Linked DNA regions of Homo sapiens: region 1 is linked to region 2. The links come from fine-mapping of genetic effects on gene expression. A gene starts in region 2. The other region holds a variant in brackets. All regions are shown on one strand. Distances are between the middles of the regions. Region 1 overlaps TFG (trafficking from ER to golgi regulator). Region 2 holds the start of TFG (trafficking from ER to golgi regulator).

What was found. PIP is the estimated chance that this variant, and not a neighbour inherited with it, causes the effect.
Region 1: its variant is fine-mapped to the expression of TFG in whole blood (TOPMed, PIP above 0.99). The same link has a PIP of 0.9 or more in B cells, CD4 T cells, CD8 T cells, NK cells, ileum and monocytes.

What each region holds. Positions count from the first base shown.
Region 1 is chr3:100,741,143-100,757,419 of GRCh38, forward strand. It overlaps TFG (trafficking from ER to golgi regulator), which reads left to right. Exons shown (of 8, transcript NM_006070.6): 7 at 3,691-3,789; 8 at 7,007-7,822. The coding sequence ends at 7,389. ABI3BP (ABI family member 3 binding protein) reads right to left here. Exons shown (of 68, transcript NM_001375547.2): 64 at 13,470-13,549; 65 at 12,677-12,706; 66 at 11,645-11,806; 67 at 10,410-10,532; 68 at 8,014-9,468. The coding sequence ends at 9,353. Among named protein-coding and RNA genes, the nearest start is that of TFG, 40 kb to the left of the region's middle. The variant G/A (reference allele first, on the strand shown) is at 7,687.
Region 2 is chr3:100,702,106-100,718,382 of GRCh38, forward strand. TFG (trafficking from ER to golgi regulator) reads left to right here and starts at 7,389. Exons shown (of 8, transcript NM_006070.6): 1 at 7,389-7,616; 2 at 11,538-11,764. The coding sequence starts at 11,581. RefSeq lists enhancers at 6,957-7,848, 7,849-8,739 and a silencer at 7,486-7,715.

The DNA.
Region 1 (16,277 bases), 39 kb after region 2:
ATCATTAGAGTGTACTCCTACTTATTTAAAAAAAAACAAAGCTGTAGAACCAGGCTCAGATAGGTCCTTCAGAAGGTATTCCGGAAGAAGGCATTGTTATCATAGGAGATGAGAGCTCCATGGATGTTCTTGACCCTGAAGACCTTCCAGTGGGACAGGATATGGAGGTGGAAAATAGTGATATCAATGATCCTGATGCTGTATAGGCCTAGGCTAATGTGTATGTTTGTGTCATAATTTTTTTCTAAATGTTTAAAAAAGTAAAAATTTAAAATTAAAAGAATAGAAAAATGCTTATAGAATAAGGATATAAAGAATAAATATTTTTGTATAGTAGCACAATGTACTTTAAGCTAAAGTATTAAAAAAGTTAAAAAATCAAGTTTATAAAGTAAAAACATTACAGTAAGCTAAGGTTAATTTATTGAAGAAATGGAATTTTAAAAAATAAATGTAGTATAGCCTAAGTGTATAGCGTTTGTAAACCTTTAGTAGTGCACAGTAATGTCCTTGGCCTTCACATTCACTCAACACAAGTACCTCACTTGGAGCAGCTTTTAATCCTACAAGCTCCAGTCATGGTAAGTGCCCTAGGCAGGCATACCATTTTTTATCTTTTTTGCCATATTTTCACTGTACCTTTTTTATGTTTTGATATGTTTAGATACACAAATAATTACCATGTGTTAGAATTGCCTAAGTATTCAGTACAGGAACATGCTCTACAGGTTTGTAGACTGCTATGTACCATATAGCCTAGCTATGTAGTAGGCTATATACATCTAGGTTTGTGTAAGTATACTATATGATTATACAGTGACACAATTTTCAGAACCTACTCTTGTCATTAAGCAATGCATGACCATATTTTTTATTACTCAAAACATTGCTTACTATAAACAATGTCTGCATTTTGCTCTCTTCATATATCCTATAGATCTCTCAAGTATGTGAAGAAGTTCATCCTTTTTCTTTTTTTAAACAATTAAACAGACTTCTTAATTAATTTTCAGAATACTGTGACAGTCCCATTTGGACTTGAATGAGGTGGGTTTAAAGTAAGTACCGTAAATCCTCACTTAACATTGTTGATAGGTTCTTGGAAATTGTAACTTTAAGTGAGATGACGTATGAGGAAATCAGTTCTACCATAGGCTAATTGATATGAGTAAGTTGAGTTCCTACAGCATATCTCTGATCACAAAAATACCCCCAGACTTCTAGATAAAGACTAAAAACAAATGTGAGTTATAGATACATTTAAGAAAGATTAATAAAAACAAATAAGATAATGATTTATGCAGTTATTCCAATTCAGGGTTGTGGGTGGCTGAAATCTATCCCATCAGCTCAGTAGCAAAGTGGGGACCAACCCTGACAGGTTGCTATTCCATTGCAGGGTGCATTGCAACCACACACACACCCATAGTCGTTCAGACTGAGATCATTTAGACATGCTAAGTAACCTAACATACACATCTTTGGGATGTGGGAGGAAATTGAAGTGCCCAGAGAAAACCCACACAGACTTGGGGAGAATGTGCAGACTCTACACAGAACAGTAACCCCAACTGGGAATAATTTTTTTTTCCTTCTCAGTGTTTTAACGAAACAATGTCGAACAAAAGATGTTATTTGAGGATCTGCTGTGTAAAAGGAATCTTGTGTAGAGATATAATAAACCTCTGAAATTTTTAACTCTAGGGATGTTTTTCAAAATCAATTTATAGCAGTTTATGAAAACATGCAAAAAAAAAAAGCTTTATGAAGAGTTGTACCCTATAAATTTTTATTGAGGGGAATAACTGTGGTTTTGACCAGGAGTTCCTTACTCATTGATGACCACAGTCTACTACTACGTGGAACCTTAATCTCAGCCTTTTTTGATGATGCCCAAGTTAATATTTATATTGTTTTGTTCATGGGATAATATATGCAAAATGACTTTATAAACTAAAGCTTTGGAGTTATGCCTGAGTTCCAGTGATGGTTCTTAGCTCTTCATGGTTCTGTTCTTAGCTATTGACTGCAGGTAAGTTGCTTAATTTTTCTGTATCTGAGATAAGGAATACTAATATGGTTGAATTTTTTTAAATGTGTTTATTGCCTGTTTGCTTATTTTTTTATTGTGGAGTTAAGCCTTCTAATTTTCAAGAATTAAGAGTTCATTGTTATGTGCTATACGTATTTATTCCCCTTGATTATATTTCTGTACCTACTTACCTTTTTATTTTAGATTCTGGTCACTTCTATTCCGAAAGTTAGTTATGAAGTACAATCCAGGATTAAGGTGGCATCTAAATTTGGTTAATTTCTGTGCTACCTTTTATGCTATTAGTCTAAATCATTAAGAAAGCATTTAAGAAACTTTTGTAAGCGTTTCTTTTTTTTTCTTGTCATATTTGGGAATAGGATAAATAGCTTAAAATAGTTGAGCTGATTTTTATTTGTATTCTTTTTTTATTATAAAGAAACATTTGCTAGGAAATAAGCTGGATATAAACATAGTTGTATCTCCTTTAGTGCTACCCAGCACTAAAAACTTAGACACGTATAGGGCTGAGCAGCTGGTATAATAGAGTGGGCTCCGTCTCATTTTCTAAGCCTGTGAGTCCTAGCTGCCTACTGCAGCTCGATTTGAGTGGGAGTTGATATAATGTCTTTTTTTTTTTCTCACTTCAGCAGTAAGTATCTGGTTTGCTCATAGTCTTTTGATTAATAGGTAGTTTGAATATTTTTCAAAGAATCAGCCAACATGTGATTATTTTAAAGATTTAAATACCAGATAGATATTAAAATGCAAGGTTATTGCTACTAGATATTACATCTAGCTAAATCAACCATTGTGAAATAATTGAGAAGTAGAGATAATAAAGACATAAACCAATAAATCTTTGCTTGAAAATCACAGGTATGGGAACAGATTGTGAGGACAGAAAAATAAAAAGTAAAAAGAAAAATCATAGGTAATAAGTGTCTAAAGGGTTTCTTCATAGGAACAGTGGTTGTTGACCCCAAATAGGACAAATAGGACTCCCATGTTCAAGAACACATCACCGTTGTTAAAAAGGTCTGCCATTATTAAATAGTGCAATGAAGAACCATTTAGACTTTATTAGAGTCCACGTTATTGGCAAAAGATGTTGGATATTCATAGAAAATCAAACTTGACAAATTCCAAAAGTGTCTTTCAGCTCTGGAACAAAAGATGTCATATAGTTCCTTGCTACCAAAGAGTTTGTTCATATGGTAATAGAGGCCCATACCTTTAGAGGGCAAATACAGTGCTTTAGGAAGGACTTAGATGATATAAATGGTATTTGTCCCTTTTCTCATTTTTATTTACTGATTTTCAACTCACTTGGCTTTTAATGAACATTAGCGTTACTTATCTGTTGGCAGCTGGGTTGGAAAACATTTGTTTTTCTAGACTTTATGAAATGGTAGCCACTGGTGTTGCACTTAATGTTTATTGCCAGTTAGTTCTCTGCAGTTAATCCACAGCAGAGGAATCACACTTCTAAAATGGTTCATTCTCTTCTTCATAGACATTTAAAGTTGAACAAATACTTTCTTGTATATTGTTACTCTGTTTGGATGGAGAGGGAATGTATATGTATCTTAAAAATATTTCTCTTTGCCACATTAAACATGCCTTTTTTCCTTGTGTGTGTGTGTGTGTGTTTTCAGGTCAGATGTACCAACAGTACCAGCAACAGGCCGGCTATGGTGCACAGCAGCCGCAGGCTCCACCTCAGCAGCCTCAACAGTATGGTATTCAGTATTCAGGTGAGCAGGTGTTGAAAGGGAGTTGGCTCATGGTTTTTTGTTTCTATACTCATTAAACTTTAAGTTCTTAATTCCTTGATTTGTAGTACATTGATATAATAGGTATTAAGTTTTTATTAGGGGAAACAACATTTGTTTTATTTATTTTTAAATATTTTACATTAATATTGTAAATCAACATTTCAGTTTTCTGGTGGGGAGATAAAACTTACAGTAGATGATTCTGCAGTAACTTGTAGTATAAAAAGTTTTTAATACAAAGCTGTCTTACTAACATTATCAGTTTATCTCTTAGGCGACTTAGTGCAAGTTTTCCCCCTTCCCTCCACCTCTCCATTTATATGTAACACGTAATTCCAGTGTACTCTTAGTACCTGTAGAAATATGAACAGTTTACTATACATGGAAAGGTGATGTTATTTAAATAAGAGCTCAATTAAGCTACTTAGATTTTAAAATCTCTTGCAAGTATGTAGGAATACCAGAAATAGGCCATAAAAATAAAATCGTATAAAATGTAATTCAGGCAACTAAGAACATTGTTTAGTTGTTTTAAATAAGCATCCTGAGTATTTTGTTTCTATTTTACCATCTGTCCACTGAAGATTATATGTATTTAAGTATGATAAATATTATTAATGTAACTTTGGCTATAATTCCAGTATTTTTTACAGTTATGTCAGAGAGTTTGTGTCCAACTCTTGTTTTACAGCCAAAGATTGAAGTATCAGAATTTCAACTGTAATTAGAAATAATTTATGCAGGTTGAATCTAGTCTAAATTCTATTTTATAGAGTTTTGTGGTATCAGCTAGAGCAGGAGTCAGTAAAGTATAGCCCACAGGCCAAATCTGGACTATTGCCTGTTTTTTTGAATAAAGTTTTATTGGAACACACTTCTACTTTTATATTCTCTACTGCTACTTGGGCACTAGAATGGCAGAGTTGAGTAGTTGCAACAGAAGACCATGTGGCCCACAAAGCCTAAACTATTTACTATCTGGCTCTTTACAGAAAAGTTTGCTGACTCCTGACCTAGACCATAACATTCTGTCATTAATTAAAATTTGAAATATTTTGACACAATTTTATTTAGATTGTATTTGCTGTAGAGTGACTTAACTTGTAGCTACTTGTTTTTAATTGTATAAAATACATAGAACTTAAGTTTGGATTATATCAGGAGGAAGGTTATTTTTAGGATGCAGTTCTTTTAAAAAAATCAGTGTTACAAACTATGTTATTTATAGAAAGAATAGCAGAGCTGAAGAGATTTAGTCATCATTTAATCTCGGGATTTCGGTCCTCACTATGCTTTAGAATCACCTGGGGGAGGCTATGTGTGGGGCCCCATTCCCAGAGATTTTGAATTTCATTTGATTGGGTGTGGGACTCAGGCGTTTGCATTTTATAAATGAGGCAACTAGTTTTGAAAGAGATTGTGACTTGTCAAAGCACATACAGCCATTCAGTGGAGGGAGCTGGATCAGTTCAGTATTTCCCTGTATCATTCTGCATTCTACAACCTAGACTGGAGTTGGCAGACTTACTCCATAAAAGGCTAGATGTCCTATGTATTAAAAAAAAAACTCACATAATTTCCATATTTCCATTTTTTTGCTATTTCTGATGTCCTTCACCTAAAGTTATTTATTATTTTGGAGGGACGGAAGGGAGACTATATATATACACACACACACATGATAGAAGCATTGCCACATTATGTTCAAGAGACTGGTGGGCTGCTAATGAAATCTTCAGCCTGTAGGGTTATTCCCTCCCCTAAGCAATAATTAAGGATCAGATTACTTCCAGGCCCAGTTAAAAAAAAACAATTCAGATTTCAGGTGCCAGGATGAAAAGGCACTTTTCTTTTTTCTCGCAGTGTTAAAATGAATAGGCATTTTCAGTATAAAGCTGAATCCATCTATTTCTTCAAAACCTTATAGTGAAAATTTAAGTTTTATGTAGAGGATAGGAGAACTTGTATGACATTCAGAATTTTTTATGAGTTGGTTTCAGGTCAGTATTTAGATGCTACCATGAGTTAATGCGTTAAAGATACTTGATTTACTTATTAAGAACTAAGCTTGCTCTTAATAAATTTAGTCAGGGTCTTCACTCTGAGTAAAATTTAGTCTTTTCAAATTATTATCTTTGTATTTCTGATCCTACTAGTCTATTAACTTGAATTTGATTGAGAGATATGGAAATAGTCAACTAAATACTCTGCTTGGAGACTAAGAGGTGGTGGTGGTAACATTGGACCATCTTTGACACTGTTGGTTTGCCAGTTTCCCTCTGACCTTTTCCAGTTTTGTTCATGGACTATGTCATAAAGGTTTCTTTCATGAGTAAATTTTGAACCCAGGTTCAAGGTGAGTTCAGAATATACTCAAATTCATTCAATCCTTTTTTTTTTTAATGCAGGGTTGTACATATTTTAATAATTTTCTTATGTATCTGGTATTTAATGCTGACAGGATTCCAGTCAATGGAGAGGTTTCATTGCAAGTAGCTGCAGGTGTGTTTCATGGTAGAGATAAAAGTTTTCAGTGAAGCAGACTTTCGTTGTAAAAAAAATTACATCCTAGTAAATAATGAATATAGATGTTGCTTTTTATGGGGCAATATGGTATGCTTTTTATGTGTTATGCTGTACTGCTAAGTAAAAATTTTGAGTTGTAAAGGCAAAAAACATCAGATACCAAATCTAAAAGGAATGATTTTAAAGATTGTGAAAATGGTACTTTTTATTTATTTGCAAAATTTAAAGCACCTGATTAGTACAATAAGATGTATTTATAGTATTATTTCATATAAAAATGTTCATTCTCCGCAATGTGTTTTTATTTGATACTGTTAAGTAGGTCTCCCCTGAAAACCTGGTTAATGACTATTTAGCTTTCCCATTTTTGGTCTTCCTAGAAAGTATAATTCTTTCATTTATCATTTGAGCATCTGTTCTAGGAATTATGCTATGTCAGGAATTTGCTCTCAGGGATTATGTCTTAGAGAGTTTAAAAAATTGTAGAGAATGCCTCTTTGATAACTACTTGGTCTTGAAATATTATGTGATGGAATCTACCACTCTGCTTGTTACATACATATTTATTAAATTTCTCACCATTTTTGGTCCACCTAACAGTAAGACTAATTCTTTGGAAAAGTAGTTTTACTAAAAGATAAGATACATGTTATTTATTTTGCCTTTTCAGCAAGCTATAGTCAGCAGACTGGACCTCAACAACCTCAGCAGTTCCAGGGATATGGCCAGCAACCAACTTCCCAGGCACCAGCTCCTGCCTTTTCTGGTCAGCCTCAACAACTGCCTGCTCAGCCGCCACAGCAGTACCAGGCGAGCAATTATCCTGCACAAACTTACACTGCCCAAACTTCTCAGCCTACTAATTATACTGTGGCTCCTGCCTCTCAACCTGGAATGGCTCCAAGCCAACCTGGGGCCTATCAACCAAGACCAGGTTTTACTTCACTTCCTGGAAGTACCATGACCCCTCCTCCAAGTGGGCCTAATCCTTATGCGCGTAACCGTCCTCCCTTTGGTCAGGGCTATACCCAACCTGGACCTGGTTATCGATAAGGAGGCTCCTCTACACCAATTAATGTAGCTGCTAGCTATTGGCCTCCCAAAAGACTCCAGTACTATTTTAATTTGTATTGAAGAAGTTCAGAAATTTAAAAGCAGAGCATTTTTTATGATATCATTGTTGGTGTTAATTGAAAGTATAATTTGCTGGAACACAAAGACCAAAATGAAAGTTTTTTCCTCCCTGCTTAAAAATGTAGCAGCTTCTTAGTTACTTTGGAACACTACTCTTACATGTATAAAGTGATTGACTTGACTTTCTAGCTTCCCTTGTCCGGAGGATATTAAAAT[G/A]CTAGGGTGAGGTTTAGCCATCTTACTTGGCTTTTTACTATTAACATGATGTACTAAAGTAGAGCCCTTTGAGAATACAAGATATTATGTATAAAATGTAACACTGATGATAGGTTAATAAAGATGATTGAATCCATTAGTGGTCTTGAAATTTTAATTTAGTCACTAACATTATGTGAAAAAAGGAACAATTTTTCAGAAGTCCTTATTGGTGTTTGGTCTTAAAATGAAGTATAAACATTTTAACTAACTTACAGATTTCCATTCAGAGAAAACAGTGCCATTTGGTTTTTGCCCTTCCTTTGAAAAAAATGCATTTGGTAATCGTTGGTTTAAAATGAACTTTATTACTTCATAGGATGAAAGGTTAATTTAGGACATAAACAAACAGTAGATATAATGGGGGTTGGTAGAGCCTGAATAAAACTTAGTGATTTTCCTTCTCGATAAAAGGTATAGTTAACATACTGATGAACCATTCAGAAATAACAAACAAAAACTCAATCTTAAAAAAAAACTACATCTCTTTATTGCAGAATTTATACTTGTTTGAAAAATACAAAATGTAGCGTTGATAAGATTGAAGCATGTTGAAAGGTAAGTACAGGGAAAGGTCCTTTCAGAATGACTGCAACAGTGCAGCAAGGATTCCCATTCCCCGCCTAAAGGACAATACCTTTTTAATAGAAATAAATGAGTTAGTTAGTTAGATTTTTATTACAGATTGAATTAAACAGTTACAAAGACATTCTCTGATACATTCATTCATAGAGGTCTTAACGTATAAATACATAGTAAATATCCTATAAAATGGTAGGCAATCTCATCGTGCATTATCTTTTTGTGCTCAGACTTGACTTCACATTCAGTCTCTACATACAGCTTGATTAGAATCATAAAAACAATATGAAGACGATTGCATAAAGGGATAGTTTGACAAAGCATATTCAGATATTGTAACATTTATGGTGGGTAAAAATGTATCTTTTGAAACAATATATTAGACTCCATTTTTAGCTGAAATGAAATTTACTGATTCAATCTTTTTAAGAATTTGTGGATGTTTAAAGGAAATGTATATTAGCATGAATGTGTAACTATTAAACTCCTCCGCAAAGCTATTCAGCTGTTGCTAAAAAATTGAAGTTTAAATATAAAAAATTGAAGTTTAAATATAAATGTGAAAATTCGGACCTTTTTTCCCCAGATATACATGCTGAAGATAATTTGATCCAATAAGTTAAACTAAGTAGAGATTTATGGAATTAACTCATCAATAGGAAGAGTACACATCAATAAAAGTAAATTTTTTTTAAAAAGTATATACCTTTTTGATGTTAATTTTGTTATAAAAGTATCTCAAAACATCATTACAACAGTGTGATAAATAATATACAAATGATCTCTTAAAATACCATGAATAGGGAGCCAGCTTCCCCAAAAATGTTATTCTGTTAACATCAGTATCTTGCTTTCTTAAAATGACTTTGTAAAACCTGATAAATACTCTCAGCAATCTTTTCTAATAATAAACATCTAGTATTGCTATTAATTAGATTGTAGACTTTTATACATAGTAAACAAAATAGCTTTAAATGAATGCGGCATAGTATTTTCAATGATTTTTGTTTGCAATGATGAAACAGAAGGTAACTTTGTGCAGCATCTACCATTTTCCAGGAATTGTAGTCCCACATTCATACCACTGAACATAATTGATTTGGGTGTGACCACCTATTTCTCCAAATTGGACAGGTTCCTGGCGAACTGCTCTGAAATAACCTGAGAGAGAAAATAGTTTCATTTTAATAGCTGCTGTATTATATTTTTGCCCTCACAGCTCATAGATTGAAGGATGTCGTTGACTAGCTGAAGGCTAATCTTAGTGAAGCGAGGTAATTTAGAAAACTGAGAGCAAGAAGTTCTGGTGTTTTTTCCTGAGGTGTAGTCATGGTTGGCTAAAATGGGCACCTGAAAAATTGTTGACATTTGCCGTGTCAAGTTAGGAGGGGATGGTTGGTAGTGAGTTTCACTGCCCATTATGTGTTCAAAGAACTTAGTAGGTCATCTTTCAGTATTGTTGGTATTTTTAAGTGCCCGTGAACAAAATGTGTTACTGAAAAATCGAATCAAATAGTTTATTTAGAGAACCTCCAGGTGATTCTGGACTAATAGGAACAATTAATTTACCCCCTTCTGCACTGCTTAGACAAGGATTAATTTTCAGTCTTATTCAGTCCTCATTACACAGCTTGGTGCCAATGGGTCTTTAGCAATTTACAGAGGTTATTCATTTCCCACAGAATTATTCTAATTATATTTATACAGTTACTTGCAAGGTAAGTACTATTTTTTCCATTTATGATAGCAGTAGTTAAAAAATTTTTTTTCTTAAGGAAATAAAAATAACGCAAGTACACTCAGTATGACAAAACCCATAACATTAATAAATGAGTGATTTAAGTTTGGGAAACTGCTTTTTTATAGCTGTTTTTGCAAGTTTAGAGTTTCTTGAAGTAGAATGCATTTATATTATGTCTGTAATTTCCCTTGGCTCCAGGTTTCTAAGCTGAGAAACTTACATTGAAGTCTTCATTTTTTCCTAGATATGTGGAGCAGTAGTACTATAGAATTCTTTTTAAATTGCTTGCTTTCCTCAGCTTGATTTCTTTCTGAGTTAATCTGTAAAACTCTGTTCTTATGAGGAGGATCAGAAAACATACCTTCTTTGATTGGTAACTGGTCAGAAGTGAGTTGCTGCCCAGTGCGTCCATCTAAAAATGAATCCACAAACTGGCAGTGATCTTCTCCATGGCCCCTCTGATCACCTATGTTATAAAATTTTCCTGAAGAACCAGAAATTAAAAGGATAAAGTTTACTTTCTTACTTTGAAATGTGACAATTTTGAAATCATCATTACTGTTTTTGTACTTTCTCCCCTCATTCTCTATTACCCTAGTTCAAACCAACAATGTTTCTTGCCTACCTGTATTCTTCCTCCCCTCCCTTTCAGGGATTAGTGATCTTTTAAAAATGCATGTCAGTTAATGTTCGTTCTCTCCATAAATTTCCCCAGCAGTCTCCCATTATACTCAGAATAAAATCCAAAGTTCTTACCTGATTTCAAACTCCACATGATTTCACACCTGCCTGCCCCTCCACTTACTAAGTCTGGGCCATACTGGTGGAACTGGCCAGGTGTATTCTACCTTAGGCCTTTGACCTTCTCTTTCCTCTAGACCTTTGTGTGGTTAGTTCCTTCTCAATTTTCTCCTTAGCTAGTGCTAACTAACTTTTTAGAGAGGCCTTCACCTTTTTGAAAATGTTCTTTAAAGTACCTCTATGAAATGTTTACTTATTTATGTATTGTCTATCTCTTCTTACTAAGGAAGGGAAGGAGAGGTAAGCTTTAGGAAAATAGGAAATATCTTTTATGCTGCTTTGTGTTCAGCACTTAGAAGAGTTGAATGACTGAAAAAAATCTACTTTTTAATGTTAGGGCCAGGCCTATTCATTAAAAATTTTTACTCTGTAAATATAGAAAATTATAACCTATTGGGCACGGAGCAGGGGGTTGTAGCTCTTCTAGCATCTTGAAGATGTTATATTCATTCCATGGTTATTGTTAGATTTAGTCACTTTATTGTCAGTCGGTTTTTTTATCCCTGGATGGTTGTAACAAAATGGAGTTTGACCATGGTTAGTGAATGTACATTCCAGTTTGTCATGATGGCACTGTTTTATAATTGCATTTTTATTATTTACCTTCTAATAGCATGTCTTAAATCCTTGCTTTCTAGGAATGATAACTGTTTCCGTAACATTTTGCTCAGAGGAAAACTTGTGTTTACAGCACCCATTCGTGCCTGAAACTCTTAAGAAAAGGCCAAGTTGTACAATGCTGCAAAACATTCCCATAAGTTAAGGGCTGAAAACAGAGCTGGTAGCTCTGCTTACCTGTGAGGGAGTCGCTCAAGTAAATCTTGTATCTGAGAGAGTTGCACAGCTGCACTCCTACAAATTTTTTATACCATGTCCTTTTGACATATTGTTTGCCCTTACACTCTGAGTAAGAGTCTGAATTAAAGGGTCTTTCAGTCCAGATGGCATCTCTTCCTGCTACAAAAGGAAAATAGTTTGAGTTTAGTATCTGACTCTTGGGTCAGATACTTCAAGAAATCAGTTTACAAAATTTGTCAACTTGCTGATACCTTTTTTTCCCCCCATGCTAAATACTGGAGCCAAAAATATTAGAGGGATTTAAACAAGTAAACCCCAGAGTAAGTTTCTGTCAATAGATAAATCTGAGAGCAGCATGTTAAGGTGTTTAGGTGTTGAATAGCCTCTGCAGAGCTGGATGTAGACAGTGTCATTTAGGAGCAAATTTAGGTTTCTTTTTTGTAGCATGTTATAAAGTTTAGACAACTGCTTTAATATGACTTGTTATTAAAAGTGGAAATGAGGGTGTTAATATCTTTTTTTTTTTTTGAGACAGGATCTCACTCTGTTGCCCAAGCTGGATAATGGCTCACTGTAGCATTAACCTCCTGGGCTCAAGTGAACATCCCACCTCAGCCTCCCAAGTAGCTAGGACCACAGGTGTGCATCATCATGCCTAGCTAATTTTTTATTTTTAAATTTTTTGTAGAGAGGGAGTCTCATTACGTTGCCAGGCTGGTCTCCAGCTCCTGGGCTCAAGCAATCCTCCCACCTCAGCCTCTCAGAGTGCTGGGATTACACTGGCTGTTTTATTAAACAGTAATAAGCCTGGTGCATGAGTGAAAGCAAATTTCAAAATGTCCAACTTGTTCCCAGAACATCATGGGTCCTCAGTGTTGTACAATGTGTAGGTAAACATTCACAACTGTTTGGTGTTATAAGAAGACTAAGTGGAAAAACGCGAAATCATGATTCAGATTCTGCCATGCCTGTTCAGTTGAATAAATTTAGAAAAGCATGTAGTTGTGCCTCATTGAGACAGGTACTTACCAGAAACTGGCTCACTCACTCTTGGGTCCGCTGAGGAGAAATAAATAGAAAAGTCAGACCTTACTAGGTAAAACCCCAACATTCCAGTGGCATGGTGAAGATGATGGGGGCTTACACTTGTTAAGAAGTCTTATTTGCAAAATGGTACTCTTTTGCTAAGGATTGAATTTGAAAGTTTGCTTTGTTTTGGAAATTGTTCTTGATTGAATAATCTCCTGCCTGGTAGGTATTCAGCTGTATCTGTTACATGTAATTTGAGTACTTAGGAACATTTGTCGCTGTTCCAGCTTTCACTTGAATTTCAAAAGCTGCTGCTTTTAGTTTGATAGAAAAACTTCATGGTAAAAATCACCAAGATGCCATGAACTACAGTTGGTATAAAAATTATGCAAATATTAATGCTGTATGTGCAGATGTATCTCATTAAGGAATTGGAGATTGTAAGGTCTAATTGGGAAGTTTGACAGCTGTTATTAAACTATCATGGGTTCCCTTTGTGGATGTACTCACTGGTATTTTCATTCTAGACATGCAGGAGAGGATTCATTGACTAGCTTTTTGGAAGAGTATAGATTCATTATGCTTTTTAAATTAAACTGATGTGTCTTTAAGTGAGGAAAAATATGCATGGTGTTTCTCTAAACCTTCATCAGTTTGCTTTTTCCCACAAATGGGTTTTTAGAAATTCAAGAAACAGTACATGTAGTGGGTTTCAAACAAACTTCCTACGCAAAACATTGCTCCACTGTGGCCCTTTTACATCCTTTTTGGGAATTACTGTTGATGTAATTACCTGATTCAGTACTGAATGCCACTGTGTTGCTGACCGGGCCTTCACCAAGCGGGTTTTTGGGTTTCACCTGGAATTCATAACTGTTTAGGGGAAAATAAAAAAATACTTGTAATACATTCTTGAGGGCTAGGAGGCAACATTGCCCTATTATACGGACATCCACTATACTGACATCCCTTTGAAATTATGACAGTGAATGGTAACATATGTTCCAGAAGCAGGTTGAGGAAAGAAAAATGATTTCTTAGTTTTACTATCTGAACAGCTTGTCTAATGTTTGAGTAAGCATTAAGTTAATAAAAAAGATGGTTGTCTTTAAAAATCTCCCAATTAGTACAAATGACTTGGCAGGTTAATAAACATATAAGAAAGTGGTATATGGTAGACAAAGGCTAATTCCAGTAACAAGGAGCCTGTTTCTTTAAGATGTCTCAGCTACTTCCTGGGGCCAAGAAGTGGCAAGATTCCATTTTATTTTCTGTTATCCCAACCCTGAGTATAACCCTGGACTTAGGCCATCTTTCTCACTGTGGAGTTTGAACTACTTATGTCAGAATCACATCATAGGGTGGCAGTGGTGAAAGTGTCTTGTCCTACTCTAGGTATTGAAGCAATTTTTGAGGAGATTCAGGTAAGAATTTATAACTTCCCTAGGTGAGTCATGTGCCCACTGAAGTTTGAGAACTACTAGACTAAGCTATAGTTAGTCTGTTTAACTGTAGACTAAGCTATGGGAATAGATACACATAAATGTTTCTTTGCAAGGACTTCCTAGTTGTATCGCCTGGAACTTGGGTCTTCTGTGGATCACAGGATTCTATGATGTCTCCAGAAAAGAGGCATGGTAATGTTGCCTTACAAAGAGCAGGAACACAAACACAGGCATTTCTCTCCCTCCATACCCCAAATTCATATCGGCCAGTCCCTTAACCTTTTGTTAAACAAAACCCCCAAACAACCCTAGGTCCCTTGGAATTATAAGTTCCGTTGATTGTATCCTTAAGAATTATTCTTCAAATTATTGTGCAGTATTAGCAATTTTTATTCATAAAATATGTAAGCAAAGCAAATCTTTTAAAGAAATGTAAACAGTAAAGCAATTTGCCATTTGCCTGAAATTAAGATTTCCCTTCAGCAGCAAGTGGACTTGGCAGTGAAAGAACATTGAATTCAAAAGTCAACCTGAGTCAGCTAATAATATTTTGAGAGTTTCAGATTTGCTCAAGGCTTTTGGGAGATAAATTTCGTCTTTGAGAAGTTTATAATTAAATAAGAATGCAGAATGCACAAAAGATAGATATTTTATAAACAAGTGAAAAATGGATGACAGCTGTCAGTTTGGTACGGATGGTACTAAATGAGCAGGAAAAAAAATTTGAGTCAGTTTCTTGATCACTGAGGTATTGTGTTAACATTGCTAGTATCTAAGAACAGATTCTAGTGCTACAACAATGGCAACCATTTTCTGAATGCTTACTATGTATCAGATGCATTAGACATTCTACATATATAAAGCAATACAACACATGTAAACCCTGATGAGATAAATCTTATCCTAATTTTCAGCTGAGAGCAATGAGGCTCAAAACACTTGTACTGTTACTATTTTTGCTTTTCAAAACTTTAAAACTGGCCAGGTGCGGTGGCTCGTGCCTGTAATCCCAGCACTTCGGGAGGCCGAGGCAGGCAGATCACATGAGGTCCTGAGTTTGAGACCAGCCTGACCAACATGGAGAAACCCTGTCTCTACTAAAAATACAAAAATTAGCTGGGCATGGTGGCACATGCCTTTGTCATTGTCATTTGCAATGAGAGATTGTTGATACAAAAACACCTTTGTCACCTACAGAAATCACACACACATGGGGTATTTTCACATGAAATATTTTCCAGAGATTAAATTTTTGCTAAGAGGCCTGAAAACAAAACAAAACAAAAAAGCCCATAGAACTACAGTGAACTGAAAATGGAAAAAAAGAAATCATAGCCATCTGGACTTTGATTCAAATGGGCAGTGCATTCCACATTCGTTCCAGGCCATTGCCAAAAGCCCTGTGCTTTGGCCAAGTCTGATTGCTGGAATTGTCTCCATGTCTTTTTATTTCACAGTTACGTACACTTAAGCTCCATTTTCAGCATGCCACATATACAAGCTACTTTTTGGGTTTTTTTTTTTTTTTTTGGCCAATATTTTGTGATATTTGACAAGTTTCAAAGAAATTATTTTGCACTAAATTTAATTAACATGGGAACTGAAAGGCACATTTTTGTTTTGGCCTGATTAAACCCTATATAACAAAAATTATTTGTGTTGGTAAAATTTTTTCTGAAGAAGCACATTTTGTCACAGATGAATGACATCATAGGTCTAAGAGAAATGTCTCAATATTGATTGTACATAGAAAATAAAATTTAAAGTTTCAGGAAACAGTTATTTGAAGTAAGAAACTTCAAATAGAAGTTTTGGAAGATAAAGTTGAGGACATTTCACAAATACTAGAACAAAAAGTCAAAGAGATGAAAAAATGAGAGAAAAGAAAGTTGGAGAATTATTCCAGAGAATATGGTACCCAACTAGTAGGAATTGTAGAAGAAAGAAAGGAAAGGAGATAGAAAATTATCCTAGAAACTTTGTAATAAATTTCCCAGTACTGAAAGACAAGAGTTTCCAGATTGAAAAGACCTACTCTGCCCAGCAAAATGAATAAAAGAAAAAGGACTAAAACATGAGTTACAAAATTTCAGAGTACTGGGGTGATAAAGACAAGTCCTCAAAACTGAGAAGAAAATAGGTCCCGTTCAAGGGAT
Region 2 (16,277 bases):
TTTTTTTCATTTTTAAATTAATTTTATTGATGTATGATTTATATACAATAAAATACACTCATTTTAAGTGCACAATTAGATGAGTTTTAACAAATTCATACACCTGTAAAACTACTGTGCCAGACAAGATTAAACATGTTTCCATGACTGCATAACATTCCTTCATGCTTCTTCCCCTATTCTAATCCCCAGGCAACCACTGATCTGCTTTCTATCATCAGATCCATCAGATACACACCATTCTGTCTCTTCCAGAATATCACACGAATCATACAGTATGTTCTCTTCTGAGTCTAGGTTCTCTCACTCAGGATGTTTTTGAGATTCATCTATATTGTTGTGTGTATCAGTGGTTAGTTTCTTTTTATTGCTAAGTAGTATTTAATTGTTTGGATATACCACAATTTGTTTATGCATTCACCAGTTCATGGGCATTTTGTTGTTTCCAAGTTTTGACTATTGTGAAATTAAAGCGCTATTAACATTGTTATACAAGTCTTTGTGTGGGTATGTTTATTCTCTCTCTCTGTTGAAATACCTGGCCATGTGCAGTGGTTCACGCCTGTAATTCCAGCAATTTAGGAGGGCAGGATTGCTTGAGCTCAGGAGTTTGAGACTAGCCTGGACAACATGGTGAAACCCCGTCTCTGAATCTAAAAAAAAAATTAAATAAGAAATATGTAGTGAAATTGCTGAGTCATAGAGTAAGTGTGTATTTACCTTTAAAAGAAACCACCAGTTTTCTAAAATGTTTGTACCATTTTATGCTCCCAACAGCAATATATGAAAGTTTTGAAGTCCAATTTGTGAAGTATTTCAGAAACTGAAAATAGGTTATTTATATTTTTTGTAGGCCACTGATCATGTTTCTAAAAAAATTCCATATATGTTAACCCTTTAACAAACAGAAGAAAAAGGAACGCAGAGTGGTATGCCTTAACGCTGCTATCTTTTACAAAGTATTTCTCATAGAACTATAGTTCAATTCTTATCTGTATTTTTCTTGCAACCTTGCAAGTTGGTGCTTTTGTACACGTGGAAGTGTGACCTTTATAATTTGCTGAACTTTAATATAAGCTGCTATGAAGCCACGATATAACAACTGAGACTTTATGGACCTTTGTGATAAAAAAAAGAAAATGGTATTTCTAGCCCTGTACTCAGTAGGCAACAGCAGGGTAAAGAAGAATTCCGGACTGGGAGTTGTCATCTCAGCTATAAGTTATGTGACTTGTGGCAAGACATTTACCCCATTTACCCAGGCATCAGAACCTGAGGCTCTGTCTCTATAAAGGAACTGGCAAGACTAGGTGAACTCTAAATTTCCTACTATCTCTAAAATTTTGTGAATCTAACTGCAGGCTGAAATTGTTCTTAAATTAACTTAAAATATTTTCTCATCTAAGAAACACATGAATATGTTTTCCTTAAAAGAAAAACAAAAAACCCAACAACAAAGAACAAATTAGAGTGTTCCAGATAGAGCTAAAGTCCCCTTTGACCATTACCACCAAATCCAAGCCCCTCTTGTCTTTTTCCTCTTCTCCCCAGAATTAACCACTGTAATGAGCTTTGTGTGTAAACTTTCAGATTTTAAAGAAATATGTGCATACATTATACACTCATAGCAACTCATAGTCTTGTGTACTTTCTTTTACATAAATGGTATAAGGAACTGTGTCAGTGGTCCCTAAGACCACTCCCACGTTTGATGAATCACTAGAAGCACTCATTAGATTCGGCAAAGACTCACATTCATAGCTATTATTTATTACGAAGGGATATAAAGCAAAACCAGCAAAGGAAAACGTTGCATGGGGAGAAGTGCAGAGGAAACCAGAGCAAACTTCCAGGAGTTCTCTTCCAGTGGAGTCACACGTGATGCACTTAATTTCTCCAGCAACAAACTGTGACAACATGTGAAATATTGTCTACCAGGAAATCTCATGAAAGATTCATTAATCAGGGTTTTTATTGGGGCCTGGTCACATAGGCACCCACTGCCTGGCATGTACCAAAATTCTAGACTTCAAGAAAGCAGGTATTCTGCATAAATCACATTGTACAAACAGTTTAGACACAGTTCACCATTCTTATCAAATATGGGATGAGAACACTCCTAAAATCCAATTTCTCAGACACCAGCCAACGGCCAATCTTGCAAGTGGGCCTTTCTGAGGACAGCAGATTCAGGCTGCTATGTTAACTATTTTCTTCACACTAACGTAACTTCCTAAAACTTGCTTTTTGCACTCATCAAAATGTTTTTGATATCTAACTGTATGCATGTGTACATTTCTTTTAATTGCTCTATAGTCTTTCATTTGAAAACAAAACAATGGGTGTGCTCTTATGTGCAAGCGTTTCTCTGGTACACTGTAAATGAAATTGTTGTGTCATAAGGCATTTTAGATGTTGATACAAACTAATGTCCCCACAACAAAGCATGAATGCCTATTTTGCCACATACTTTTTTTTTTTACAAAGTGTTATGTAACTATTTTATTTTTCTCAGATGAATATATGAAAAATGGTATCTCATTGTGGTTTTACTTTGCATCTTTTATTATAAGTCTCTCTTTATTGAAATGGCTTTTTGAGAATGCTGTTTAATTATGCATTTATATGGAGGGACTAAAAGCAGGATCCTTGGCATAAATGTTAGATTAGAGACATGAGTGTCTCCAAGTACCCAGAGTTTGATTTTGTCTCTGATATGCATGATTCCTAGACTCTGGCAACTAGGTTTCTTTTACTTTTCTTTTTCTTCTTTTTTTTTTTTTTTTTTTTTTTTGAGAGAGTCTCACTCTGTCACCCAGGCTGGAGTGCAATGGCGTGAGATCATGGCTCACTGAAGCCTTGACCTTCTTGGGCTCAAGGGATCCTCCTGCCTCAGCCTCCCAAGTAGCTGAGACTACACGTACATGCCACTATGCCTGGCTAATTTTTTTGATTTTTATTTTTAGTAGAGACAGGGTCTCACTATATTGCCCAGGCTGGTTTTAAACTCTGGGGTCAAGTGATCATCCTGCCTTGGGCTCCCAAAGTGCTGGGATTATAGGCATGAGGAGCCACCACACTGGGCTTCGGTTTCTTTCTTTCTTTTGGAGCTGGAGTCTCGCTCTGTCACCCAGGCTGGAGTGCAGTGGCACGAACTTGGCTCACTGCAACCTCCACCTCCCAGGTTCAAGCAATTCTCCTGTCTCAGTCTCCCCAGTATCTGGAATTACAGGCGAATGTCACCATGCCCGGCTAATTGGGCCTAGGTTTCTTAAATGAGCCTAACAAAGCTACTCTTGATCAAATGAAAAGTTATATCTTCTTGCACATCTTGTGGCATTTGTATGAGTCTACTAGGGCTACCATAACAAAACACCACAGACTGGGTGGCTTAAACATCAGAAATTTATTTTCTCATAGTTCTGGAGGCTGGAAATAAAAATTTGGTAAGTTTGGTTTCTTCTGAGGGCTCTCTCCTTGGCTTGCAGAAGGCTGCCTTCTTAATGTATCTTCACATGGCCTTGCCTCTGTGTGCACCCATCTCTGGTTTCTCTCTGTGTGTCCTAATCTCCTCTTCTTATAAGGACATCAGTCATACTGAATTAGGGGCTCACCCCAATGACCTCGTTTTAACTTAATCACCTCTTTAAAGAATCCATCTCCAAATACAGTCACCTTTTGAGGTGGTTCAATATATGAATTCTGGGGGAAGGATGCAATTCAGCTCACAATTGCATTTCTCTTTCAACTTGAAATCTGACAGGTAATTTAGCAGAGAGGTAACTTAGCACTGTCTCCAGGGGATGTAAATGAAGAAAAGTGAATGATTTCAAATTACTAAGAGACAAATCCTACATGGCTAGGGAGTTAGGAACTTACCCGTTGACAGCTGATCCTTTTGTTTTTTCTGGGAGCTTGCCCTGTAAAGTGGTGGGGAACTTAGTTTTCATTATTTTATTCAATAACTATGTATTGAATGTCTAGATCAGCCTCTAGTGATACAAAATCTAGGAAGAACTGCCTTTGAGAGTAGTTTCTCTAAAGAGAGATTGGACATAGAGCATCATGGTAAGGCAAAAGCATTTTAGGGATTTCACGGATGTGAAGCTGGTAGGACAGGTTGAAGTATTTTGCTTAGCTAGTGCTAAGAATCACTCACTCAAAGGTACAAAGTAAGAAATCGTTCCTTTCTCCTTCATTATCTCTGCATAGGGTGGCAGCTTCCTATGTTCACACAAGCAAATCTTTACATTTAGCCAGTGAAGGTGAGGCTGAGCTGACTAGCTGGCTCCTGTTTGGTCCTCATGATTCCCCTTCTGTTTGGAGTTCTCTTTTTTTAGCTAGCTGCTGCCACAACAGAGCTGATTCTTGGCAAGGGACATAACTTCTCGTTGGAAATTCTCATCCAAGGAGGAATGTACACGCTTTCCTTTGTTCTTCTGAGGACATATAAGATGACTCAAATTTTCAAAATGATTTATACTAAGTACTAAAGAAGAACATGATGAAACATAGATTTTATCTAACTTGCTAACAGGGCTCATAGTCTTTGTCTCATTTCTTGTCCAGTCTGAGAATCCCGTTTTCATTCTTAGGATTTTTTCCCCCCATTCCATGTGAGGAGTTTTAGCTACACAGACTTTCAGGGAGAAAGAGCAGGTGGTAGCTAAGTTGGTTGGTTGACTCCTTCTCTTAAAATCACAGTGTAAGTCTTAACCCTTCTTCAGATGAAACATGGAAAATAACCTGTGTAGTGCAGAATCTCATATCTTTCCTTGCTACAGTCTGGGTCAAAGATATTTCCTTGCACTCCTTCTCCTTCCTTCACATATCCTCAACTTTAATATACTACCATTAAGCAGTATTTTCTTTTCTTTTTTTTCTTAGCAGTTCCTTGGAAGAAATGAGTAGTATTTTCTAGTTCAAGACTATGCTCAGTGTTCATTTAAAACCAAATTCATCTAGATGCAGAAAAGAAGGCCAGTATGTATCTACAGACATAGTAGAAGAGACCCATCTTCTTGTAAGTGAGGTAACTGGTTCAATTCAGGTTATGGCTCTGTCACTAGATATCACCTGTATTTATTGGGAGCTTAAGTACATAGATGTGCATCAGCTTCGACTTGAGAAATCACCAGAACCCCACCTCTCAAGTTCCACAGAAGTAGCTGGGAATAGGCTTTACCATAAAGAAGACTTTACTGATGGCTTCGGGATGAAGCATGAGGGAAATTACAACATAAAGAGCCTCAAGTTGCTTTCGGAGTCCATGAGCTCCATGAGCTCCAGCTTTTCCACAAGGCCAGCTTATGGGTGCCTCTCTTCCTAGCGTACAGATGACCACAGTGTAACAGGGACCAGCTTATTTCTCCTCAGTAGCAGGACTCTTGAGTGCCCCCTCACTGGGGATCCTCAGCAGATACTCTTTTCACCTTATAATAGGCCAAGGTTCACCTCCTTATCTCCTGCCTCAGGATCTGACCTCTTTTTAGTTTAAATATACTACTATAACAGTAGTATAATTCACTTCCTTCAGGGAATATTTTACCTTTGCCATATGGTTGTGGTTTTACCCCATCCCAAACCATCTTAATGACATCATAATACTATTATCTGACAGCAGTGCATCTCCCCAAATCTGTATTATTCAGTTTTAAAAAATAAGCAATGAATAACATTCTTTGGAGAGCAATTAGGAACTGTTTTTCATTTCTTCTGCAGTACTCCACTCCCTTATCCCTGCAAACAATTGCTCAAAGGTCAATACAACTGTTGGAAAATACAAATCAGAAGTGAACAGTGTAAACTTACATTATTTCACTCTCAAACAGAAGTTTCAGAGACTTATAACTGAAAAAGATCACACTACTTATGGTTGTAAAAGAACGTAGCTTCTCACCCTGAAACACCAGAATTTACTCCAGGTCCTTTAGGAGTATCTGGTGTTAAAGCAAACTAAATATGGCCTGAGAAGGACTCCATACATCTATACTTGAATCCTTGTGGATGAACTGTAACCTAGCTTAACAGACAAGATTGAAAACCTAACTTAGAAGTATGCGTCTCTTACAATAAGCGAGTCTTGGCCAATTCCAGCCGCCACACTTCAATCACTCATAGACTGCTAAGTGTTCAAATAAGGCCAACGCCAACCTGTAACCAATCCAGCTGTTTCTGTACTTCACTGCCAATTTCTGTACCTCATTTCCCTTTTTTTGTCTATAAATCTTCCACCACGTGGCTCTGCTGGAGTCTCTTAATCTGCTGTGATTCTGGGGGCTGCCCAATTCGTGAAATCGTTCACTGCTCAATTAAACTCCTTTAAATTTAATTCAGCTTAAGTTTTTCTTTTATAACTGGTAAACAACTGGAGACCAGGTAGGGTCTAAATGCTTTATTTATCAGCTTAGTCTCCACCTTAGAAGTGACAAACATTCTCCGTTTGGCCAAACTTCGGGCTCCTGGGCCTTCTCCTAGGACCATCTGTGCATCTTCTTGTAAAACTCAGTTTCAGCAAAGAACCTTGTTAAGGCAGTGTAGTGAGAATCCCTCACCCTTGATGGGGTTCCTCATCCTCCACCACCCCCAGGTGATGTCTGCTATCCTGGCCTATCTTCGTCTAGAATCCTGTTGTGTTGGTTTAGCCAGAATCTCCCTTGCCCCTGATATTTCCTCTTAGTAATTTTCCATCCACTGACCGACTTCCACCCCTTGGCTATAAATTCCTACTTACTCATACTGTATTTCTATTTGAACAGGTAAGGGAGAAGGGAAGAGTACGTAGGACACACTCAAATGCCTTATCCTCTAAAAATCACTCAGGAATCTTTAGCCTTAATTTCCCAGCTTTTGTCCTTTACACAGTTACAGATTTTCCTTGCTCATAAACGCTGTAGGTCTTCCCTGCTTAATTGGAAACTCCTTGCTCACAAAATGATTCACCCCCATTCCTAGAACCGGGCTTGGCAAAGCATAGGCTCCCAATAATGAATGAATGGATTTATAGAAGAAAAGGTTTTTTCTTTTTCAGCTGTTACTACAATGGTCAACAATAACGACAAAAACCACTTAAAGTTGGACAGACGTCTACTGCAACCAACTCTCAAAAAGTTTAGAACAGCGCACTACGCCCCGCCCATTGGCGAGAAACGGAAATACCCGCTTTCGAGAAAACCGGAAGTGCGTGGTCACGCCCCGCGCATGCGTGCATCGGGGCAGCTCACGCTTCCTAAATCCCGTCATCCAGTGAGAAAGCAGGGACTCTTCGGCCTAGGCAGCCGGGACCCAGCCAGCCCTGCGCCTCGCGCCGTCGCGCATGCGTCCTGGGTATGTCCACGCGCAATAAGGAGGGGCGAAAGGACATTTTTTTTTTTCTTGCTCCCGCCTCTGTTCTTCCCCCACCTGCCACGTACAGAGCCCAAGTTCTCGCTAGGCTTGTTGGGTCAGCGCGATTGGCCGGGGCCCGCGCGAGCCTGCGAGCGAGGTGCGGCGGTCGCGAAGGGCAACCGAGGGGGCCGTGACCACCGCCTCCCCGCGACGCCCCAGTCCAGTGGCCTCGCGTCCGCCCATTCAGCGGAGACCTGCGGAGAGGCGGCGGCCGCGGCCTCCGCAAGCCGGTATGGCCACTGGAGACGGGGGTTGCGGGCGCTCTGTCCGAGGAGGCCGGGAGACTAGGAGGCGCTGGGAGGGCCTCGTTCGAACCGCGCGGCAGCTGGGGTCGGAGGCACTGTGGGAAGGGGCTGGAGGGAGGAGGGGGTGGGAGGGAGGAGGGGGTGGGAGGGAGGACGAGGCCGGGGGGGAGGGCGGGCGGGGCCTTGCATGGGGGGAGGGGAAGGGAGGTCGCGGAGGGGGAGGGGAGAGAGGCAACCCCTGGCTGCGGTGGCCAGGAGGCGCGCCTGGGGGGCTCCGGGAGGGGAGTGCGCCAGCTAATGCCTTGGTGCAGCCTGCCTCCAAGCGTTTGGATTGAGAGGAGAGGGGCTTTGGGAGGTTTGGGGCGGCCGGCGCCCAATACCCGAAGGAGCTCGGAAGGGTGTGGAGTGGCGCCTACGGGAATAAGTTGATTGGGGTCATAGAATCGGAGCCTAGTTCCTTGGCTAAGTCAGCGCTTAATCAAGCGCCGGCTGGAGGCCCAGCCTGGTTTATAGTGATGATTCTAGCTAACTTTAAGAGTTTGCTTTGCTGGACACTACAGTAAGTATTTTGGATGCACTGTCTCATTTAATCATCACAAGGATTCCTCCAAATTCAGATATGGTTGTTTTCATTTCGAATGTGATGAAAGTGAGCCTTGGAGGACTTAAGATCACATAGCTAGTAGTGAGAATCTTTACCGTCTTGCTGCACTGCCTTTGAGGCAGGGTTTGAGGCCTCTTGGCATTCTTTAGAATAATTACAGGTTGACTTGGCTTAGTATTTCTTGAAGGAAACTGCTCCCCTCAGGAGGTGCTTAAGCCACAGCCTCTGAAATTGAGCAGGGTCTTACCCTTAGAGGTAGTAGAACCAGAAGTTTGTCCGCCGAACCTAGAACCTGGTTCAGGAGGCAGGCTTTTTATATGACCTTGGGCGTGTCAGATTATTCCCAGTGCTGAGAAAAGTGTACCTGGTAGAGGGTTATATTATACAAGTTAGAAGCCGAGTCATTTCTGGACTTCAGAGGGGGCGGGGCAAGGACAAGATGGGAGAAGAGCTTGTCGTAGGGCTCCTACTGGCAGTTCTAGGAACTAGTTAATACCAGTCTCTACTTTGGAAGAGAAAATGAGTACCAGAATTCTGTATGTGAAGTAATGTTGGGTTGGGATTTCCCCTTGAAGGGAAAGTTTTGTTGCACACTTACTTTTGAGATACTTTTGTGTTTACTCTGGGGAGATGACTGCAAGAGCAAACGACAGCTTTAGGAAAGAAGCACTGGTTCCTGGCCACAAGATGTTTACAGTCAATAGGAAACACAAAAAGTGAATTTGCAGGTAAACACGGCAGATAGAAAGTATACGTGACTCAATTTTTTTTTTTTTTTGAGACGGAGTCTGGCTCTGTCGCCCAGGCTGTAGTGCAGTGGCGTGATCCCCCAGCTCACTGCAACCTCCGCCTCCCGGGTTCAAGCGATTCTCCTGCCTCAGTCTCCTGAGTATCTGGGATTACAGGCGTGCGCCACGACAACTGGCTCATTTTTGTATTTTTAGTAGAGACAGGGTTTCACCCTGTTGATCGGTCTGGTCTTGGACTCCTGACCTCGTGATCTGCCCGCCTCGGCCTCCCAAAGTGCTGGGATTACAGGTGTGAGCCACCGTGCCCGGCCCTCAAATTTTAAATCCATTGAAATTGGGCAACAAACCCGTACCCCAGTCAGAAGGACATACCATCAATTATCTTCAAAGCTGGAATTTTTTTCTTAATTAGGAGTGTGTCTGATGGAAGTCACTTCTAGCTACATAAAGAAGGTACAGTGTGAGGGGTCGGATGTAAAAACTGATCTATATTACAGCTTTCTTCTCCCATAATTAAAAAATTTAAACAAAGTCTTTAAATTCTATATGTCAGGCACTTTTCTAGGTGCTGCTGGGAATAGATAGTACCAGCTCACTGAAGCTAAGCACTGGTTCCTTTTACATTATTGCTGGTTTACACTTCTTGTAGGAAGGAGAAGGTAACAAATACATTGATTTATTGAAAGGTCTTTATTACTCTTAGGCTGCCAGAGCAAGCAAGATGGAATATTTACCATCTTGGTGAAGTAATTATACTTTAGAGTTGGCACATAGTAGGTATTTAATAAGTAGTTCCTGAATACCGAAAGCATTGCAGAAGGCATTGCAGAAGGCGAAGAGTTGGTTGTGTGGAGATTTCTGTTAATCACTGTCTTCACGAGAAGTCCATTGTGAGAACTGGCAGATAAAAAGCTAACTGTATTCTTATTTTGCATTAAGATAAGCATGGCATCCCTAGAGTGGAATGCAGTTCACTCTGTTCTGCATTGACCTTAGAGTGTTATATTTAGTTTTAATGACCCATTTCATTGAAGATTTATTAATAAAATATCTGTTGAGAGCATGGTGAGGGGTCTAGAGATATTAATTTAAGGACTAGTTAGATGGAAGGACCTAGCGTATTTATATGAAGAATAGTAGGGCATTAATATATAATATTCATATAATAGGATTCATGAAAACTTTTTTGAAGTACTTGAAGGGTTGATATGTTGGGGGAGTAGGTGAGTGCTTTCACATACCCCGAAAGAATAAAGAATAATTGCAGAGAAGTGTGGTGTTAATGAAATAACAGATTTAAGAGGAGGAAGCAGAAAGCTGCTAGTAGTAAGGCGGGAAGTTGAAACTAGAATGTGGCCAGTAGTAGTTTGTAGGATACCTTGAAAAGTCTCAAGAGATCATTTTCTTGGGGCAGGAGGAGGAAGGAGTTATGCTTGGAAAATGTTCAGCGATTATAGATAACATTCAGGAACATCTTGGCCTTGAGAAGAAGAGATATTAATCCATTATTTTTCCCTTTATTTAATAGCTGTTGAATGACTGTTGTCTGCTAGGCACTGTTGTAGACTCTGGGAATATGGAAAACATAATCGTTTACTTCCTACCATCAAGTGGAAAAGACAATAAAATGTTATAAATTTTTAATGTCTGGTAGTGTTAAGTGCTTTGAAGAAAAATAAAGCAGGATAAGAAGATAATGCCAGGGGAGCCATTTTAAATTAGATGGTTAGGAAAGATCTCTCTCAGTTAACACTTGATAAGGAATCTGAATCATATGAGGGGTATCAGAAAGGGTCAAGACAAAGGGAAAACTTGAAGTATGGGAATAGCAGGGGTGAGTGAAGAAGAGAGGTAGGAAATGAAGTTAAATACTTGGCCAGGGACTGGAGGCCAGATGATTTTATAGGTCTTGCTTTTTGGGATGAGAATGCATTGGAAGGTTTTGAACAGAATGATACTAGGTTTTACTTAACAGTGTTAACTCTGGTGTTCTGAGACTAGATTAAAAGTGGGCAAAGGTAAAAAGCAGGCAGACTGGTTAGGAGTCTTTTCCAGTCATTTAGGCAAGTGATGATGGTGGCTTGAATCAAGTTGATAGCAGTGAAGGTGCTGAAGTGGTTGGACCCCAGAGTTATTTTAAAGGCAGTGGCAACCATATTTTCTTGGCAGTTTGGATGTAAGGTTTGAGAGAGAGAGATCAACCAAGATTTTTTTGTCTTATACAACTCGAAGGAAGATAAAGAAGCCTCTAGGAGAGGCAGGTTTTAGGTGGAAGATCAGGAATTTATTTTTAGATATATTAAGAAAAATCTAAATGGTCATGTCAGATGAACAGTTAAATATGAGAAAAAATAATAGTAGACGTAAAATAAAAGCTTATTTTATTATCCCTACAGTAAAATAATGTTGCCTCCAGACCATTTTAACATAAATATGGTAACATGGGGATAATGAATCTTTTGGAGGCTAGAGTTTCTTAGCATCTAATAGTAGCTTTGCTCTCAACTTTTACGGTATGTTTTGTTGTTTAATTATCAAAACCACTTTTATCAGTCTTTCTCTAGAGTTGTATATATAGAACATCCTGGAGTCCACCATGAACGGACAGTTGGATCTAAGTGGGAAGCTAATCATCAAAGCTCAACTTGGGGAGGATATTCGGCGAATTCCTATTCATAATGAAGATATTACTTATGATGAATTAGTGCTAATGATGCAACGAGTTTTCAGAGGAAAACTTCTGAGTAATGATGAAGTAACAATAAAGTATAAAGATGAAGGTAAGAGTGTTTTTAAAGCTATTTTTTAAAGTCTTTTTAAAAAAAAAAAAAAAAAGACAGAGCCTCTGTTGCCCAGGCTGGAGTACAGTGGTGTGATCATAGCTCAGTGTCACCTCAAACTCCTGGGCTCAAGCAATCCTGCCTCGGCCTCCCAAAGTGCTGGGATTACAGGCATGAACTGCCATGCCTGACCTTAAAGTCTTAAGTATTGTATGTGTTATTTTGCCCATTTTTATTGGACTCTTTCCCATCCTCTCTTCACGGTAGTTGAGACCTCACTTTCTTGTATTGAATGTGATGTTCCTATAGTTACTATAATTCTCTCATCAGTTAAAATTAGCTAAGTGGGGCCGGGCGCAGCAGCTCATGCCTGTAATCCCAGCACTTTGGGAGACCGAGGTAGGCGGATCATTTGAGGTCAGGAGTTCAAGATCAGCCTGGCCAACATGGCGAAACCCTGTCTCTACTAAAAATACCAAAAATTAGCTGGGCGTGGTGGTGTGCGCCTGTAATCCCAACTACTCGGGAGGATGAGGCAGAGAATTACTTGAACCCGGGAGGTGGAGCTTACATTGAGCCAAGATCGTGCCACTGCACTCCAGCCTGGGTGACACAGCAAGACTCCGTCTCAAAAAAAAAAAAATAGCTAATTGGTTTATTAGAAGGGAATTTTAAGTGTTAGAACATTTTCACATACATTTTTTTTACAAGCATTATTTTCTCCTTTTGTCCATATAATTCTGGTTTCTTTTAGCTTAAAAAAATTTTTTTTCTATTCTTATTTCCCGAAATGAAAGGTTTTAGTATGTATTGAATGAAAAAGGATTTTATGGTCAACTAAGTAAGGGAAAGCTGGTTTAAACAAAGACAAAAGTGTTTCTTTATTGTAGGAGTTTTCAGATTATGTAATATGCTTATATACATTTTCAGAAGTTAGTAGTATGCAGTGTTCCCAGACTCATTTGTTGACAAAATTATCTTTATGGAAATAGGTTTTGAATGAAAAATGTTTCGGCAAACACACTGAGTAGAATTATAGTAGTAGACTGTATTTCCTATTCTTCAACCTGCCTTCTTTGTTAATATCTCTGCTGAAATTTTCTCTTTAGGTGGTTACCAGTGTTTTTTACTGTGGAACTTACTTGCAGTGTATTTAATCTTGACCTCACTGTTTAGCACTGCTACCCACACCATCCTTGTTTTTAAATACTTTTACCTCTTAACATCTCTGACACTGCTTAACCTAGTTTTCTTATCACTAACAGTTTTTTCTCTGTCTGTGTTAGGGTTGGGCTTAAAGTAATGCCAGCAGATATAATAGAAATCTTAAAATCTGAGTGGTTTAATAGTTGAGAAATCTTTCAGGGATCCAGGTTGAAAGAAGCTGTTACCTTCAACACATGGCTTATAAGCTCACCATAGGCATTGACATTGGCAAGCAGATGAGTGAAGACAGAGTATGAAGAATCATATGGGAGATTTTACTCACTAGGCCTGATGGTGTTGTATGTCATTTCTGCCCTTATGACATTGGTCAGTACCCAGTTACATGGCTTTGCTAAGATGCAAATGGGTTGGGAAGTATAGTCCCTGGCTGAGCAGCCACTTAGCACAACTTATACTGTGGAGGAGAAGTGTAAATCACTGGTGATCAGTTAAATTGACCATCTAGCTAAAGGTATAATTCTCCTTTGTTTTTGTGATGTGTAGTCTAAGAATACCCAAAACAAATTTTTGAGAGTTGCCCATGTTAAGAAACAATAAAGGATAGTACTTTTTTCCTGTTTTCTTATGCTTATCATACATTGATTTGCACCTCTGTGACTTTGAAATGTGTGTCTTAATTTGATCAGTGAATTTTTTTTTTTTTTGAGACAGGGTCTCACTCTCATCCAGGCTACAGTGCAGTGGCATGATTATAGCTCATCATAACCTTTAACTCCTGTCCCCAGGCAATACTGCCAACCCGGCCTCCCAAAGGCATAAGCCACCATGCCCAGCCTACAATTCAGATTTTTAACTTTTTTTTTTTTTTAGCAAAGTCCCAAGAGTACTTTTTTTTTTAAATTTTGTTTTAATTGACAAATAATAATTGTACATATTTATGGGGTACATAGTAATGTTTCATTACATATAATGGGATTAGATCAGGGTAATTCGCATATCCATCACCTCAAATATTTATTTCTTTGGGTTAGAAACATTCAATATTCTCCTTCTAGCTATTTGAAATTATATAATATGTTATTGTTAACTGTAGTCATCCTATAGTGCTATAGAACACTGGAACTACTTCTATCTAGTTGTACTTTTGTGTCTTTTAATAAATCTCTCCCTATCCCTCTTTTCCCCTACCCTTTGCAGCCTCTACTGTCATCTGTTCTGCTTTTTACTTGTATAAGATCAACTTTTTTTAGCTTCCACATATGAGAGAGAGCATGTGGTATCTTTTTAACTTAATGTCTTCCAGTTCCATCCATGTTGCTGTGAATGACAGGACTTCATTCTTTTTTATGGCTGAATTGTATTCCATTGTGTATATATACCATATTTTCTTTATCAGTTAATCTGTTGTTAGACACTTAGGTTGATTCCATATCTTGACTATTGTGAATAGTGCTGCAGTAAAATGTGAGTGCAGATTTCTCTTCAATATACTGGTTTCCTTTCCTTTAGTTAAATATTCAGTAGTGGCATCGCTGAATTGTGTGTTAGTTCGATTTATAGTTTTTTGAGGAACCTTCATACTGTTCTCCCTAGTGGCTGTACTGTTGACATTCCTACCAATAATGTGTAAGAGTTCCCTTTTCTCTTCATTCTTGCCAGCATTTGTTATTTATCTTTTTGATAATAACCATCCTAACTGGGGTGAACCTTGTTGTGGTCTTCATTTTCCTGATATGTGTGCATTTCCCTGATGATTTGTGATTTTGAGCATTTTTTCATATATTTATTGACCATTTCTATGTCTTTTTTTGAGAAATGTCTGTTCAGATCATTTGCCGATTTTAAAATCGGATTGATTGTTTTTTAGCTGTTGAGATGTTTGAGTTCCTTCTATATTCTGAATATTCATCCTCTGCCAGATGAGTAGTTGTATTTCCTCCCATTCTGTAAGTTCTCTTTTCACTCTTGATTGTTTCCTTTGCTGTGCAGAAAAGTTTTCCAGTTTGAGATAATCATATTTATTTTTGCTTTTATTGACTGCACTTTTGAGGTCTTATTCATGAAATCTTTTCCCGACCTATTAAAGAGGTTATCCTTTTCCTAATGAGTGGTCTTGTCAAAAGTCAGTTGGCTATAGATAACATGGATTATGTTCTTTTGTTCTATGTGTTCTATTGATCTATGTGTTTGTTCTCTTGGTCAATGGGTCTGTTTTTATGTCAGTTCTGTTGGTCTGTGGGTCCGTTTTTGTGCCAGTCCATGCTTATTACAGCTTTGTAGTATATTTTGAGGTCAGTAAGTGTGACACCTTCAGCTTTGTTCTTTGCTCAGTATTGCTTTGACTGTCTGGGGTTGTATGTAGTTCTGTACAAATTTTATGGTTTGTTTTTAAATTTTTATGAATAATTTTATTGGTAGTTTGATAGGGATTGAATTGAATCTGTAAATTGCTTTGAGTAATTTTGTCATTTTAACAATATTTGTTCTTATATAAGCATGGGATGTCATTACATATGTATGCTCTTTGGTTTCTTTCATCAGTGTTTTTTTTTTTTTTTGTAGAGGTTTTTCATCTTCTTGGTTAAACTGCTTCCTAGATATTTAAAAAAATTTTTGTAGCTGTGGTTAATGGGATTGCATTTTTTATTTTTTATTGTATGTGTATAGAAACACTACTTATTTTTGTGTACTTATTTTGTTTCTGGCAGCTTTATTGAATTCATTTATTGGTTCTAAGGGTTTTGGTAGAGTTTTTAGGTTTTTGTTTATATAAGATTATGTCATCTGCAAACAGGGACAGTTTGCTTCCTTCCCAATTTGGATACCTTTTATTTTTTTCTCTTGCATAATTGCTCTGGCTAGTACTTGCTTAACTGTCTTTTTTTTATTTTTTATTTTTTTGTCTTGAGACAGGGTCTTGCTCTGTCTCCCAAGCTGGAGCGCAGTGGTGTGATCATGGCTCATTGAAGCCTTGAACTCCTGGGCTCAAGCAGTCCTTGCAACTCAGCCTCCCGTGTAGCTGGGACTGCAGGCATGTGCCACTGCACTCAGCTTCTTATTCTTAATGTTTATCAAAATGGGGGTCTCACTGTGTTGCCCAGGCTGGTCCTGAACTCCTGGGCTCAAGCGATCCTCCTGCCTTGGCCTGCCAAAGTACTGAGATTACAGGCATGAGCCAGTGTGCCTGGCCTTTAACTGCCTTTTTTCCCACTTGAAGATGCTTTGCCTTTATCTCAAACTGACCTCATTGACTGGCTTTCTCTTAACTACTGTTTAGGGCAAAGGTCAGCAAACATTTTCTTTAATAGATCAGAGAGAATAAATATTGTAGCTTTGTGGGTCACAT